Linked DNA regions of Homo sapiens. The protein of the gene in region 1 interacts with the protein of each later gene in a biochemical or structural test. Each region holds a gene or a part of one and is shown on either strand. Other genes may lie near its edges.

What was found. Proteins that work in one complex are often made in the same cells at the same time.
Region 2: the proteins of RXFP3 (region 1) and RLN3 form a complex in vitro, tested with the Homo sapiens proteins (2 studies listed by BioGRID, with this or other methods).

Annotation. Positions count from the first base shown.
Region 1 is NC_000005.10:33,932,080-33,940,011, forward strand, and holds RXFP3 (relaxin-3 receptor 1), read left to right. Parts: upstream 1-4,306; 5' UTR 4,307-4,661; coding exon 4,662-6,071; 3' UTR 6,072-6,839; downstream 6,840-7,932. UniProt on the Homo sapiens protein: Receptor for RNL3/relaxin-3. Binding of the ligand inhibit cAMP accumulation.
Region 2 is NC_000019.10:14,023,165-14,031,147, forward strand, and holds the start of RLN3 (relaxin-3 preproprotein), read left to right. Parts: upstream 1-4,983; 5' UTR 4,984-5,040; coding exon 5,041-5,230; intron 5,231-7,080; coding exon of another isoform or gene 7,081-7,192; intron 7,193-7,545; coding exon 7,546-7,784; 3' UTR 7,785-7,983. UniProt on the Homo sapiens protein: May play a role in neuropeptide signaling processes. Ligand for LGR7, RXFP3 and RXFP4.

The sequences.
Region 1 (7,932 bases):
CAGTCCACCCCCAAGTACTGTCAAGTCAGTGTCTTAAATGCCTATTTAAATCTTATTCTGCCCCGCATCCCTCTAGATTAAAGTACAATCATCTCTCTCCTGAACTATTGATGTAGCTTCCTAATTGTCTTGATTTATATCAGCTCCGCCCCTTCCAGTCTACTCATCACACTATATCTAGAGTGATGGTTTGAATATGCGAAACTGATTGTGTTGCTCCCCTGCTTCAAATTTTCCAATGTCCTCCATTACTCCAAAGTCATAGATCAAAATTCTGCAGTCGGAAATTGTTTGACACCTGCCCATGTCACCAGACTATCTAGCACTATTTACTTCATCTCCCTGTGTTATAGGCACTTCATCTTCTTTCTGTCCTACAAAAGCATCATGCTCTTTCCTGCCCAGTGCCTTCACTCAGGCTGTTCCTTCTGCCCAGAGTCCTCTTTCTTCCCCTTTCCTTACCCCCACCTCACCCCCATTTACCTGATTATAGAATTTCCTTTCTTCCAAGATACTATAGCTTATAAGACACACCTTTTGTTTACAGCTTTCTAGAGAAAAAAATTATTCACTAAATAGGTATATAGCAATTGGAAATCCATATTGATCTTAAAAATCTTTAATTTGATAAGATGTGAATCTTAGAATTAGATAAATATGCTTGTAAATAGTTAAAAGTTAGTTACTTGCACATGGTTTTGTAACTTTCTATTTTACTCTGTTTTTTTCTTATTGTAATTATAATAATACAATTTATTAGAATTTTTTTTTTTTTTTTGAAATGGCGTCTTGCTCTGTTGCCCAGGCTGGAGTCCAGCCATGTGATCTCAGCTCATTGCAACCCCCACCTCCTGGGCTCAAGCAAGTCTCCTGGCTCAGCCTCCAGAGTAGCTGGGACTACAGGCATGTGCCACTACACACAGCTAATTTTTGTATTTTTAGTAGAGACGGGGTTTCACCATGTTGGCTAGGCTGGTCTTGAACTCCTGACCTTAAGTGATCTGCCTGCCTCAGCACCCCAAAGTGCTGGAATTACAGACATGAGACAGTGTGCCCAACCCAGAATTCAAATTTTTAAAAGGTCTCTCTCATCTATTAGAATGTGAGTTCTGGTACCACTAAATCTCTAGTACATGACACAGTGTCTAGCACAAAGTCGGTGTTAAGATTAACCAACATGTTCAAATCAGAATTGCTCCATTTCCCATTAGGTTATGTTCAAGCCAGGCTGTGTACCCACCCTATGCTAGTTTCTATTGCTATTATAACACATGGGCAGAAATGTTGTGGCTTAAAAGAAGGTACATTTATTCTCTCACAGTTCTGGAGATCAGAGATTCAAAATCAGTTTCACTAGAGTAAAGCCAAGATGTCAGAAGAGCTGTTTCCTTCTTGAGGCTTTAGGAGAGAATCCATCTTTTTGCTTAGTTAAGCTTCTAGTGGCTGCAAAGTTCCTTTGGCTGTATAAAGTAACATCCAAGGGCTTGGGAAATGGGATGTGGACATATTTGTGTGTGGGGGGAGGCATTATTCAGCCTACCACCCACCCCTGTGTTGAAAAACAATATGGAAGACTTAGATCCAAATTGGAAAATGGAGCATAGATCAAGAGACATCACTTAAGAGTCAAGACTATGTTTTAGACCGGGTGTGGCTCCTTCCTAGTGGTGAGATTCTTGGTAAATACCTTCATTTCTTCAAGCCTCCTCCGCAAAATGCTGGACCAAAGCAGGTGATTTCTTCCCTTCTATGATCATGGGCTCCCAATGGTTACATGCTAGAGTATGATTTTATGCTGTCCTCATGGCTTCGCATGGCCCACATGGCTTCAGGAACACAAAAGAAGCCCAGAAAAAGGTTTCAAGATCCCATACCCTGCCACTGTGAATGAGAGACAGTTTCTTGATGCTGATTTTCCTCCAGGCCCCCATCACAGCCTGGTTTCAATTTTGGTAAGAAGAGGAACAGAAAAACAGACCACATATGTAACATAACAAGCTCTGCACCCTTCCTCCTTTATGGTTTCTTTAAATACCAACATAGAGTACCCCCTCCCAAAAAACCTAAAACTGGAATATCCCATCAAGGTATAACTATTTATTACCTACCCACCCCTTAAAAAAAAAGGGAAATAATAAAAGAGGTAAAATTATTGTCCACTTATCTGGCATGAATCATTACATTCTAGATAACTTAGTCATGCACAAAACTAAACAAAAAATATAGTTTTAGACACTAGTAGATTGCACACTCATCTAGATTAAGAATTCCAGAGACGCTCAAAATAGAGGACTTATGTCTTTCAGCCTATCTCAGTGCCTGGCAAGAGTAAGTGGCCAATGAATGTGAGATGAATTGAATCAGGCCCCTATAATTTTTTCATAAAGTATGAATATGTACATGTGATTTGGAGCAGACCAAGTAGATATATTCCTGGGTGTGCCTAGAAGCACTGAGAAGCTGTGTATGTGTTAGATGGAGGTCATTGGTGTGAACATACCAAAAATTTAACAGCAGAGAGCTTTCAGGGTATGCCCCAGCTTTTCTTGTGTTTCAACAGCCCCTTGAAATATTAGAAAAGAGAAATAGAGACATAGATGAAGAGAGAGAGAAAATTGATGGAGAAATAACCAGTTAAAAATAAAGTCAAAACTGAGTGTGAAAGTGAGGCTACTAAAACCAGGATAATAGTCATCCATAGAAATAACCTGTGCTTTGGGAGGAATCCTCAGGGCAGGGGTGATCTCCAGGTAAGAACTGATCAAAGGAGATGTTTGTGTTTGGCTAGGTTTTTACTAAAGCCCTTACTCCCTCTAGTGGGAAGACGGAGCTGTGCAGCATCCGTAGCAAGGTGTGTGCTCTTCAGGGCTAAAAGTCCTTTGGAATCAAGATTGTTTCTTGTTTCTTTTTTTTTCTTTTTTCCTTTTTCTCTTTCTTTTCTTTTCTTTCTTTCTTTCTTTCTTTCTTTCTTTCTTTCTTTCTTTCTTTTTCGTTTTTCTCTTTCTTTCTTTTTCTGTTTCTTATCTCCTCAGCTTGAAGGTTGCATCCTCTTTATCTCCTTAAGTAAAGCTGGGAGTTCTGTAGTACTCCAGGAGTGAGGACAATTATGCTTAAGAAACTTTGGTTTCAGTTTAGTCCCAGACCAAGAGGAAAACATTTCAAAATTTTAAAGTAAATCCTAAAAGTGTAATTTACACCAGAGCGATTGACCTGGCATTTATGTAGACTGAAGCTTGAGAAGTAATTCAAGTGGTTTCCACTCATTCCCTTGGAAGAGTCCTTAGAATGTACTTCCATTGGTCTGAAAAACGCCTGAAAAAGAGTCCTGATGCTAACAGTAATGGAAATAGGAGGGCTGGTGGTTCACGATCAGCCCAGTGGTATCCTCTATTCTATTTGCATCTAGGTAAAGAGACTGTGGCCTGTATGTGATCAAACAATTTGTTGAAGCGCTTTGGGCTTAGGGCATTTAATTTCTGTGAAGTAGGACCATCAGTTGTTTGCTCTGTTTTTGTGTCACCTCTCAGAATACATTAAAGTAGGGGCAACCCTTGAGCCCAGACTTCTGCCATGTGAAGACCCTTTGAAAATCCTGACAAACACAGGTACTGCGTAAGTGGTCAGCTAATTAAAGAGGGGAGGTGGAGCTGTCCTTTGTGTATCCAATAAGTACCCATTATCTCATTTGAGCATGAAAAGAGGCCACTGTTATTACTTTCAAGAAGGAAAGTAAGCAGGATAGCTCATATTTTTAGAACAATTCCTCACCAAATGGAATAATTCCGGTGAAAAGTGGGAGTGAGGAAGAAAGAAAAAAAAAACTTCTAATCATAATGTTTGGGAATAAGAAAGGAAGAAGAAACTCACGTCAAAGCCGACTTTCTCCTGCAGCTGTAAAATAAACTCTTAAGACCCTTCCTGCTGAAACTCTGGAGAGGAAAACTGGAGTGGCGGGTGGGCTTTGCCTGCAGCTCAACTCTCCCTCGCGGCGCGGGCGCGGCTGGGTTCAGCACCTCGGAAAGCGCCCCTCGCGGCGCCCCGGGATTACGCATGCTCCTTGGGGCCCGCCGCCTTGGCCGTGCAAGTGCCACCGTAACTGGTGAGAGCCGCTGGCAACCCACCCGGAGTTGACAACCGCGGAGAGACGCAGACACCCACTGACCTCCAGGAAGCTGAGCGTGGTGGATGGAACTCTACGATCTCTTTCTCTCCAAGGACGGAAACCTCATCCAAGCAGTCCCAGAGGAAACGGATAAAGGTATTTGAAAGGGAGCGAGCGGCCCCAAATCGCACAATTGAGCGGCTGGGGGAGTTATGCGCCAGTGCCCCAGTGACCGCGGGACACGGAGAGGGGAAGTCTGCGTTGTACATAAGGACCTAGGGACTCCGAGCTTGGCCTGAGAACCCTTGGACGCCGAGTGCTTGCCTTACGGGCTGCACTCCTCAACTCTGCTCCAAAGCAGCCGCTGAGCTCAACTCCTGCGTCCAGGGCGTTCGCTGCGCGCCAGGACGCGCTTAGTACCCAGTTCCTGGGCTCTCTCTTCAGTAGCTGCTTTGAAAGCTCCCACGCACGTCCCGCAGGCTAGCCTGGCAACAAAACTGGGGTAAACCGTGTTATCTTAGGTCTTGTCCCCCAGAACATGACCTAGAGGTACCTGCGCATGCAGATGGCCGATGCAGCCACGATAGCCACCATGAATAAGGCAGCAGGCGGGGACAAGCTAGCAGAACTCTTCAGTCTGGTCCCGGACCTTCTGGAGGCGGCCAACACGAGTGGTAACGCGTCGCTGCAGCTTCCGGACTTGTGGTGGGAGCTGGGGCTGGAGTTGCCGGACGGCGCGCCGCCAGGACATCCCCCGGGCAGCGGCGGGGCAGAGAGCGCGGACACAGAGGCCCGGGTGCGGATTCTCATCAGCGTGGTGTACTGGGTGGTGTGCGCCCTGGGGTTGGCGGGCAACCTGCTGGTTCTCTACCTGATGAAGAGCATGCAGGGCTGGCGCAAGTCCTCTATCAACCTCTTCGTCACCAACCTGGCGCTGACGGACTTTCAGTTTGTGCTCACCCTGCCCTTCTGGGCGGTGGAGAACGCTCTTGACTTCAAATGGCCCTTCGGCAAGGCCATGTGTAAGATCGTGTCCATGGTGACGTCCATGAACATGTACGCCAGCGTGTTCTTCCTCACTGCCATGAGTGTGACGCGCTACCATTCGGTGGCCTCGGCTCTGAAGAGCCACCGGACCCGAGGACACGGCCGGGGCGACTGCTGCGGCCGGAGCCTGGGGGACAGCTGCTGCTTCTCGGCCAAGGCGCTGTGTGTGTGGATCTGGGCTTTGGCCGCGCTGGCCTCGCTGCCCAGTGCCATTTTCTCCACCACGGTCAAGGTGATGGGCGAGGAGCTGTGCCTGGTGCGTTTCCCGGACAAGTTGCTGGGCCGCGACAGGCAGTTCTGGCTGGGCCTCTACCACTCGCAGAAGGTGCTGCTGGGCTTCGTGCTGCCGCTGGGCATCATTATCTTGTGCTACCTGCTGCTGGTGCGCTTCATCGCCGACCGCCGCGCGGCGGGGACCAAAGGAGGGGCCGCGGTAGCCGGAGGACGCCCGACCGGAGCCAGCGCCCGGAGACTGTCGAAGGTCACCAAATCAGTGACCATCGTTGTCCTGTCCTTCTTCCTGTGTTGGCTGCCCAACCAGGCGCTCACCACCTGGAGCATCCTCATCAAGTTCAACGCGGTGCCCTTCAGCCAGGAGTATTTCCTGTGCCAGGTATACGCGTTCCCTGTGAGCGTGTGCCTAGCGCACTCCAACAGCTGCCTCAACCCCGTCCTCTACTGCCTCGTGCGCCGCGAGTTCCGCAAGGCGCTCAAGAGCCTGCTGTGGCGCATCGCGTCTCCTTCGATCACCAGCATGCGCCCCTTCACCGCCACTACCAAGCCGGAGCACGAGGATCAGGGGCTGCAGGCCCCGGCGCCGCCCCACGCGGCCGCGGAGCCGGACCTGCTCTACTACCCACCTGGCGTCGTGGTCTACAGCGGGGGGCGCTACGACCTGCTGCCCAGCAGCTCTGCCTACTGACGCAGGCCTCAGGCCCAGGGCGCGCCGTCGGGGCAAGGTGGCCTTCCCCGGGCGGTAAAGAGGTGAAAGGATGAAGGAGGGCTGGGGGGGGCCCCATTTAAGAAGTAGGTGGGAGGAGGATGGGCAGAGCATGGAGGAGGAGCCTGTGGATAGGCCGAGGACCTTCTCTGGAGAGGAGATGCTTCGAAATCGGGTGGAGAGAGGAAATTGGCAAAGGGATAGAGACGAGCCCCACGGGCCAGACAGCCAACCTCCGCTCCGCACCCCACAGCCTCTCCTTACTCTTCCCACGCTGAGTAGTGTGGGGGCGCCCAGAAGCGAAGACAAGCAGCAAAAATGTAGAGAAATTGGCACGGGGAGCGGGGCTTAGCCAAATGATGCACAGACAATTGTGCCCGTTTATTCCAGCGACTTCTGCGGAGAGGGCAGCCGTCGGCACAAACACTCCTTTGCGTCTTGGCAAACGAGACTGCAGCAGCGCCAAGGTCCTACTTGCTGCGGGGCTGCCCCAGGAATCTAGAGCTGGTAGGCAAGAAACGCTTTTGGAGTTAAGAAAAAGAACTGACCATCCTGGTCCGCCCACAGGAGAAACGGCAAAGGAAAGCCACCTCCAATGGAGTCATTATGACAATTATCATTCCGGACTGGGCCAGCGGGAACACCCTGAGCCCGACCTAGCTGCACAGCCCCGGAGCTCAGACGTTAGCAGGGGGATAACACCTGTCACCAGCTTGGGAGAGCCATTCTCTGGGGAGTGTCGTCGCTGCGGGAGGGAGGAGACACAGTGTGATTAGAAGGGCTGGACAGGGAAATTTCTTCAGGCTGCTGCCCCAAAAGGTAAAAGGGGGCTCATATGCTCACTTGGTAGCAGAGTTGGAAGTGGAGCGCTGGCGCGTTGCGCGCAGGAAGCTCGGGCGCTCCAGTTCCTCTGAGAGCAGTCTGCGTGCTGCCGGTGAGCTGGGCCCGGAGGCATCTTGAATAGCTCTACTGGGAGGAGTGGGGGCACTTCTTCAGTTCCTCCCTTCCCACGCTTTGGGAATCAAGCTGTTCCTTTGATTGAGGCCCTGGACCAGCGAGTAGAGGGATGGTTCAGTATTTATTTTATTATTAATTTTTTTCTGGTAGGCTTAGATAGAAGAGGAAGAAATACCGCAGAAATGTGCAAGGGGAATTGGGGCGGGGGGCGGGGGGAAGTGGAATCTTGGAAACCAAATTCCTAGAAGCTGGGTCGGATCTCTCAAACAGAGGTGTGGGGTAGGAAAGAAAATAGAAGGTTCAGGTACCATGTTCTAAAGCGAGCAGAGTACTGGGGAAACTGTTCTGAGGGTATCATCAGAATTTCAGTTGTGGGCTTTTTTATTGCTTATATTATTGACAAGAGAAGGTAGGAAATAGTAATTCCCATCGGACATTACCATCACCAATTTCCATTTATTCTAAAGAGTGCTTTACATATTAAGCATGCATGACAAATTCTTTCCCAGCCTCCAGACAGTTTATGGAGCTGTCTCTGAAGACCGCCTCACATTTCTCATGTTGACTCTGTTTTGATCACAGGAGCTTAAGATGTTAAACCCTCACAAAGTCCTTTCTTGAGGCTCTTCTAAGAACTGGGATCAAACATCAGTCTACCTACCCCTCTGCTGGCTTTCATAGAGGTACTGCTACTCTCTTCGGCAACCTGGTTTGGGGCCAAAAAACCAATGATGCAGGCACCCACCAGGGTGGTTGGTTTAATATAAAAAATAGCCATTCGTAAAAACAGGTCTGTTTAAAGAGCCTCTTGAACGGTAGAATTGTTTAGTGATGTCGTTGAAAGTTTTCTGCAGTATCTGAGATTCAGGGCTCAAAATGTGAGATC
Region 2 (7,983 bases), on another chromosome or scaffold:
TCACAATGAACTCAGAGAGGTATAGGGTCTTGCCCAAGGATACACAGGAACAGAGATTTGAACCTAGCTATGTTGGGCCCAAAACTCTGATTCTATGTGAGACACAAAAGACGCTTCTGGGCTGGGTGCAGTGACTCACGCCAGCACTTTGGGAGGCTGAGGTGGGCAGATCACTTGAGATCAAGAGTTTGAGGCTAGCCTGGCCAACATGGCAAAACCCCGTCTCTACTAAAAATACAAAAATTAACCAGACATGGTGGCGCACACCTGCAGTCCTAGCTACTTGGGAGGCTGAGGCACATGAATAGCTTGAACCCTGGAGACAGAGGCTGCGATGAGCCGAGATCACTCCATTGCACTCCAGTCTGAGCGACAGAGTGAGACCCTGTGTCAAAAAAAAAAAAAAAAGAAAAGAAAAAGAAAAAAGAGGCTTCTGGTTTGAGGCCCATCAGTTAAGTCAGGCAGGCAGGCAGCAGATATTTCCTGAATGCTTGTTCTTCCCCAGGCCAGGCACTGGGGGCGCAGGAGAAAAGGGCAGGAGGGTACCTCCCTACAGGAAGTTCCTGGAGAAGAGGCCGAGGGGAAGAGAGTATTATTCACCAGCCCTTTAGAAACAGAGCAATCAGAGGTGACCTCTGCCTCCGGAAGGTTGCCCTTGGCCTGTGACATCCACAGCAGGCAACTGGGGCCAGGAGTTTGTGACAGAGAAAAGGACAAAGAGATGAAGTTCTAATCCAAAGGGAACGTGTCCAGTAGAAATAACATTTAAACAGCACTTACTTCATGCAGGAGATTGTTGTAAAAATTTGACTCACTCATTAAATCTTTCCCATTTTGCAAGTGAGGAAACCAAGGCACAGAGAGTTTAAGTGACTTGGCCAAGGTCACACAGCAGGAAAGAGGCAGAGGTGGAATTTGAAGCCAAGCTTGCCCCCCTTACCAGAGCCCTTGTTTTTGCTGTGTTTTAAAGTCGAGGTGAAATTGACATTAACATAGCTGTGCCTGGTGGCTCATGCCTGTAGTCCTAGCACTTTGGGAGGCCAAAGGGGGAGGATCACTTGAGCTCAGGAGTTCCAGATCAGCCTGGGCAACATAGTTAGGCCTCATCTCTTTAAAAAAGAAAGACTGGCCGCAGTGGTTTACATTTGTAAACCACCTGTTTCCCACCTGGCTAATTTTTGTATTTTTGTTAGAGACTGGGTTTTACACTACGGTGGACAGGCTGGTCTCAAACTCCTGAACTCAAGTGATCTGCCCGCCTTGGCCTCCCAAAGTGCTGGGATTACAGACGTGAGCCACCGTACCTGGCCTGGTTAGTTTTATTTTATATGGATGTTATCTCTCTCTTTTTTTTTTTTTTTTTGAGACAGAGTTTCGCTCTTGTTGCCCAGGCTGGAGTGCAATGGCGTGATCTCCGCTCACTGCATCCTCCGACTCCCAGGTTCAAGAGATTCTCCTGCCTCAGCCTCCTGAGTAGCTGGGATTACAGGCATCTGCCACCATGCCCAGCAAATTTTTGTATTTTTAGTAGAGACGGGTTTCACCGTGTTGGCCAGGCTGGTCTCAAACTCTTGACCTCAAGTGATCCGTCCTCCTCAGCCTCCCAAAGTGCTGGGATTACAGGCATGAGCCACCATGCCCGGCCTCAATTTTTTTTTTTTTTAGACAAGGTTTGGCTCCGTTGTACAGGCTGGAGTGCAGTGATGCAATCTCAGCTCATGGCAGCCTTGAACGCTTAGGCAAAAGTGATCTTCCCACCTCAGCCTCCTGAGTAGCTGGGATCACAGATGTGTGCCACCACACCTGGCTAATTTTTACATTATTTGTAGAGGTGGGGTTTCACCTGTTGCCCAGGCTGGTCTGGAACTCTTGGGTTCAAGCAATCCTCCTGCCTTGGCTGCCCAAAGTTCCGGAATTACAGGCGTGAGCCATCATTCCCAGCCTCTCAATATATATATTTTTATTTTATTATGATGATGATGATTATTTTTTGTGACAAAGTCTCACTCTGTCGCCCACGCTGATGCACAGTGGCTCAATCTCGGCTCACTGCAGACTCTGCCTCCTGGGTTCAAGTGAGTCTCCTGCCTCAGACTCCTGAGTAACTGGGATTACAGGCATGTGCCACCATGCCCAGCTAATTTTTGTACTATTAGTAGAGATGGGGTTTGACCATGTCGGCCAGGCTGGTCTCGAACTCCTGACCTCAAGTGACTCGCCCGCCTCAGCTGCCCAAAGTTCTAGGATTACAGGCATGAGCCACTGTGCCTGGCCACTGCCACTAATTTTACATTATGGTGAGTTGTATGATTATTTCAATATACAACTACAGTATAATAATAATAGAAATAAAGTGCACAATAAATGTGATGCGCTTGGCCAGGCGCGGTGGCTCATGCCTGTAGTCCCAGCACTTTGGGAGGCCGAGGTGGACGGATCATGAGGTCAAGAGATCGGGACCAACCTGGACAACATGGTGAAACCTCGTCTCTACTAAAAATACAAAAATTAGCTGGGCGTGGTGGCATATGCCTGTAGTCCCAGCTACTCGGAAGCTGAGGCAGGAGAATCGCTTGAACCTGGGAGGCAGAAGTTGCAGTGAGCCAAGATTGCGCCATTGCACTCCAGCCTGGTGACACAGCAAGACTCCATCTCAAAAAAAAAAAAAAAAAAAAAAAAAGTGATACGCTTGAATCATCCCGAAACCATCCACTTGACACTCCATCCATGGAAAAATTGTCTTCCACGAAACCGGTTTCTGGCGTCAAAAACGTTAGGATCTGCTGCCTCAGGACACCCTTCTGTGTCTCCGTTTCCTCATTTGTAATATGAGAATTATCTTAGTCCTGAATTCATAACCCCATGCTCTTAAAAGTGTGGTTTCCGCCGGGCGCAGTGTCTCACGCCTGTAATCCCAGCACTTTGGGAGGTCGAGGCGGGCGGATCACGAGGTCAGGAGATCGAGACCATCCTGGCTAACACAGTGAAACCCCGTCTCTACTAAAAATACAAAAAATTAGCCGGGCGTGGTGGCGGGCGCCTGTAGTCCCAGCTACTCGGGAGGCTGAGGCAGGAGAATGGCGTGAACCTGGGAAGTGGGGAGCTTGCAGTGAGCCGAGATCATGCCACTGCACTCCAGCCTGGGCGACAGTGCGAGACTCCATCTCAAAAAAAAAAAAAAAAGAAAGAAAGAAACTGTGGTTTCTGGGCTGGGCGTGGTGCTCCAGGCTGGAGTGCAATGACACAATCTTGGCTCACTGCAACCTCTGCCTCCTGGGTTCAAGCGATTCTCCTGCCTCAGCCTTCTCAGTAGCTGGGATTACAGGCACCCGCCACCATGCCCGGCTAATTTTTATATTTTTAATAGAGACAGGGTTTCATCATGTTGGCCAGGCTGGTCTCAAACTCCTGACCTCAGGTGATCCACCCGCCTCGACCTCCCAAAGTGCTGGGATTACAGGTGTGAACCACTGTGTCCAGCCAATCCCAGCACTTCGAGAGTCTGACGCATTTGGGTCCCTTGAGTCCAAGAGTTTGAGACCAGCCCGGGCAACATTGTGAGGTCTCATCTCTACAAAAAATACAAAAATTAGCTGAGCATGGTGGTACACACCTGTAGTCCCAGCTACTTAGGAGGCTGAGGTGGGAGGATCATTTGAACCCGGGAATTCAAGGCTGCAGTGAGCTATGTTGCCACCACTACAATCCAGCCTGGGCAACATAGCCAGACCCTGTCTCTGAAAAAAAGAAAAAAAAAAAAGTCTGGTTTCTGAACCAGCAGGATCAATGTCACCTGGGAACTGGTTGGAAATGCAGATTCTTAGATATGTTCCATACCTGTTGAGTCAGGAGCTCTGCAGGTAGGACACAAAGATATGTGTTTTGTTTGTTTGTTTTTGAGACAGAGTCTCACTCTGTTGCCCAGGCTGAAGTGCAGTGGCGCCATCTCAGCTCACTGCAACCTCCACCTCCCAGGTTCAAGCAATTCTCCTGCCTCAGCCTCCCAAGGAGCTGGGGCTACAGACATGAGCCACCACACCCGGCTAATTTTTTGTATTTTTAGTAGAGGCGGGGTTTCACCATGTTGGCCAGGCTGGTCTCGAACTCCGGACCTCAGGTAATCCTCCTGCCATGGCCTCCCAAAGTGCTGGGATTACAGGCGTGAGCCACCGCGCCTGGCCTGATTTCTGTTTTAACAAGCCTACCCAAAGATTCTGAAGCTCACTCACATTTGAGAACCATTACCCTGGGTTGTTGGGAGAATCAAATACATTACAGAGATATAAAATGCTTTGAGCAGCTGAGGGCTGTGGCTCATATCTGTAATCCCAGCACTTTGGGAGGCTGAGACAGGCGGATCACCTGAGGCCAGGAGTTCGAGACCAGCCTGGCCAACGTGGTAAAACCCCGTCTCTACTGAAAATACAAAAATTAGCCAGGTGTGGTGGTGGGCGCCTGTAATCCCAACTACTTGGGAGGCTGAGGCGGGAGAATTTCTTGAATCTGGGAGGCGGAGGTTGCAGTGAGCCAAGATTGTGCCATTGGGACTGTACCTCTAGCCTGGGTGACAGAGCGAGACTCCATCTAAACAAACAAACAAACAAATAAACAATAAAATGCTTACAGTAGTGTGCCTGGCCTCGTAGCACATACTGCACTGGGCGTTCACTGCTATTATGATCTTCGAAGAGGTCCAGGACCCTAACGTTGTGGGGATCTGGTTGTGTCACCTTACCCCGCCTTTTGGGATTATGCGTTTCTGGTCTCTGCAGGTTGGAGACCTTCTCGCCTCTCTGTCAATGATGTTGACAATAAGCTGGGCCACATCACCCTGTCCCTAGCGAAAGGTTATCACTTCGCTGGGGACATGAGAAAGGTCGGGTTGGGGGGGCCGTGCCTGTCTCCCCTCTGCTGGAGAAGATAAGGGAGGCACTCAGCTTTCTTCAGGCAGAGTGTGGGGGAGCCACGATGTATAAATGGGGGGCCAAGAGGCAGCAGAGACACTGGCCCACTCTCACGTTCAAAGCATCTCCGTCCAGCATGGCCAGGTACATGCTGCTGCTGCTCCTGGCGGTATGGGTGCTGACCGGGGAGCTGTGGCCGGGAGCTGAGGCCCGGGCAGCGCCTTACGGGGTCAGGCTTTGCGGCCGAGAATTCATCCGAGCAGTCATCTTCACCTGCGGGGGCTCCCGGTGGAGACGATCAGACATCCTGGCCCACGAGGCTATGGGTGAGGCTGGGGAGAGAGTGGATGTAGAAGGGGAACAGGTGGCTGGATGGGTCCCAGGAGCTAAGGACAGAGATAAGAGGAGGTTGCTGGAGGAGGAGGGTCCCTGTCCTGCCACATTCAGCCAGGGACACCTGCCCAGCCTTGAAACAAGGGCTCAGGAGTTAGCAGAGCTGCAGAGCTGGGATGGGGTGTTGCAAGCCATCCATGGGGGCTGGAAGTCTGAGGACAGGTGGGGGCGGGGAGCGTGCCATTTGCAAAGACAACACCGAAGTGTTTTCCAACCCTTTCCAGCAGGTAATGTGAAGGGTGTGGTATACACATAGCTGGGTTTGTCACCTAATGCATGACCTCTCCCCAGCAAGTTGGTTTTTCTTCCGTCTCTGAGTGTCTTTTTTTTGGAGATGTGGTCTCACTCCATTGCCCAGGCTTGAATGCAGTGGCCCAATCACTGCTCATTGCAGCCTCGACCTCCCAGGCTCAAGTGATTCTCCTGCCTCCGCCTCCAGAGTAGTTGAGACCACAGGCACCTGACACCATGCCTGGCTAGTTTTAAATTTTTTTTTTGTAGAAACAGGGGTCTCACTATGTTGCCTAGGCTGGTCTCGAACTCCTGGGCTCAAGTGATCCTCCCACCTCGGCCTCCCTAAGTGCTGAGATTAGAGTCTCTGAGTGTCTTTATCTTCAAATGGGAGACACAGTTCCTGAATCTTGCAGGATTAAGTGGTATGATTAAATCAAAACAGATTAGGGCAGAGTCTCAGCAGGGCAGCGGCACAATCTGGGATCCATCAGGAGAGTCAGAGGGAACAGAAGACCTAGCTTCATGAGGGGCAGGGACCTGGCAAATAGATATTCATGATGGTGAGAAGGAGGATAGGTATGAGCGTGGACATAGAAGACACACCACTTGGATTCAGATAGTAGCTCTACAATGTAATAGTTGTGTGTTCATGTGCTACTATTTTTTTTTTTTTTGAGACAGAATCTCATTCTGTTGCCCAGGCTGGAGTGCAGTGGTGCAATCTTGGCTCACTGTAACCTCCATCACCTGGGTTCAAGCGATTCTCGTGCCTCCAGCCTCCCAAGTAGCTGGGATTACAGATGTGTGCCACCATACCTCGCTAATCTTTTTATTTTTAGTAGAGACAGTTTCACCATGTTGGCCAGGCTGGTCTCCAACTCCTGACCTCAGGTGATCCTCCCACCTCAGCCTCCCAAAGTGCTGGGATTACAGGCATGAGCCACCGCGCCCAGCCATGCAAATTCTTTACTGAGTCCTGCCTCAGTGGTCTCCTCTGGAAAATACGGGTGATAACTGCACCCACCTCAACTGGTTATCACTGAGAAGAATAAAGAAGTTAACCTGCTAAAGCACTTAAAACGTTGTTTGACACAAAGTAAGTGATCAATAAATTATTATTATTATTATTATTATTATTATTATTATTTTTGAGACAGGGTCTTGCTCTGTTGCCCAGACTGGAGTGCAGTGGTGTGATCACAGCTCACTGCAGCTTCAACCTCTTGGGCTCAAGCAATTCTCCTGCCTCAGCCTCCTGAGTAGCTGGGACTACAGGCTTGTGCCAACATGTCTAACTTTTTATTATTTGTAGAGACAGGGTAGTGCTGTGTTGTCCAGGCTGTTCTTGAACTCCTGGTTCTGGTGATCCTCCAGCATGTGCCCCTGGAAGTGCTGGGATTACAGGTGTGAGACACCGTGCCCGGACTCAATAGTCATTTTTGAGTGCTCATCATGTTCCAGACATTGTTCTAAGTTTTTTTTTTTAATGAATATTAACTCCTTATAAAACTTGAGAAGGTTGGAGTAATTATTTTTTTCCACTTTGCAGAAAAGAACATTGAGGCTCCAAGAAGTAAATTTACTTGCTCACGATTAGAGAAGCTGGATTCATGCTCAGTCAGCCCAGCTCCCAAATGTACCAGGTCCTCAATTAATAAAGAGTAAGGAGAAATAAATGACAGGGCTGGGTGCGGTGGCTCACGCCTGTAATCCCAGCACTTTGGGTGGCTGAGGTGGGCACATCACTTGAGGTCAGGAGTTTGCGACCAGCCTGAACAACATGGTGAACCCCATCTCTATAACAATACAAAAATCAGCCAGGCCTGCTGGCAGACACCTGTAATCCCACCTACTCTGGCAGAGCCAGAATTTGAACCCAGGACTGGGTGGAATAAAAACTCTGAACTATGTCTATGACTGTTGTCACAAGATCAGAGCTAGACTGGCCAGGAGCCATGACTGTGGGTGCAGCAGCAGCTGAGCCCTGATCACTAACTCTGTTCATCTTTTGCAGGAGATACCTTCCCGGATGCAGATGCTGATGAAGACAGTCTGGCAGGCGAGCTGGATGAGGCCATGGGGTCCAGCGAGTGGCTGGCCCTGACCAAGTCACCCCAGGCCTTTTACAGGGGGCGACCCAGCTGGCAAGGAACCCCTGGGGTTCTTCGGGGCAGCCGAGATGTCCTGGCTGGCCTTTCCAGCAGCTGCTGCAAGTGGGGGTGTAGCAAAAGTGAAATCAGTAGCCTTTGCTAGTTTGAGGGCTGGGCAGCCGTGGGCACCAGGACCAATGCCCCAGTCCTGCCATCCACTCAACTAGTGTCTGGCTGGGCACCTGTCTTTCGAGCCTCACACATTCATTCATTCATCTACAAGTCACAGAGGCACTGTGGGCTCAGGCACAGTCTCCCGACACCACCTATCCAACCCTGCCCTTTGACCAGCCTATCATGAC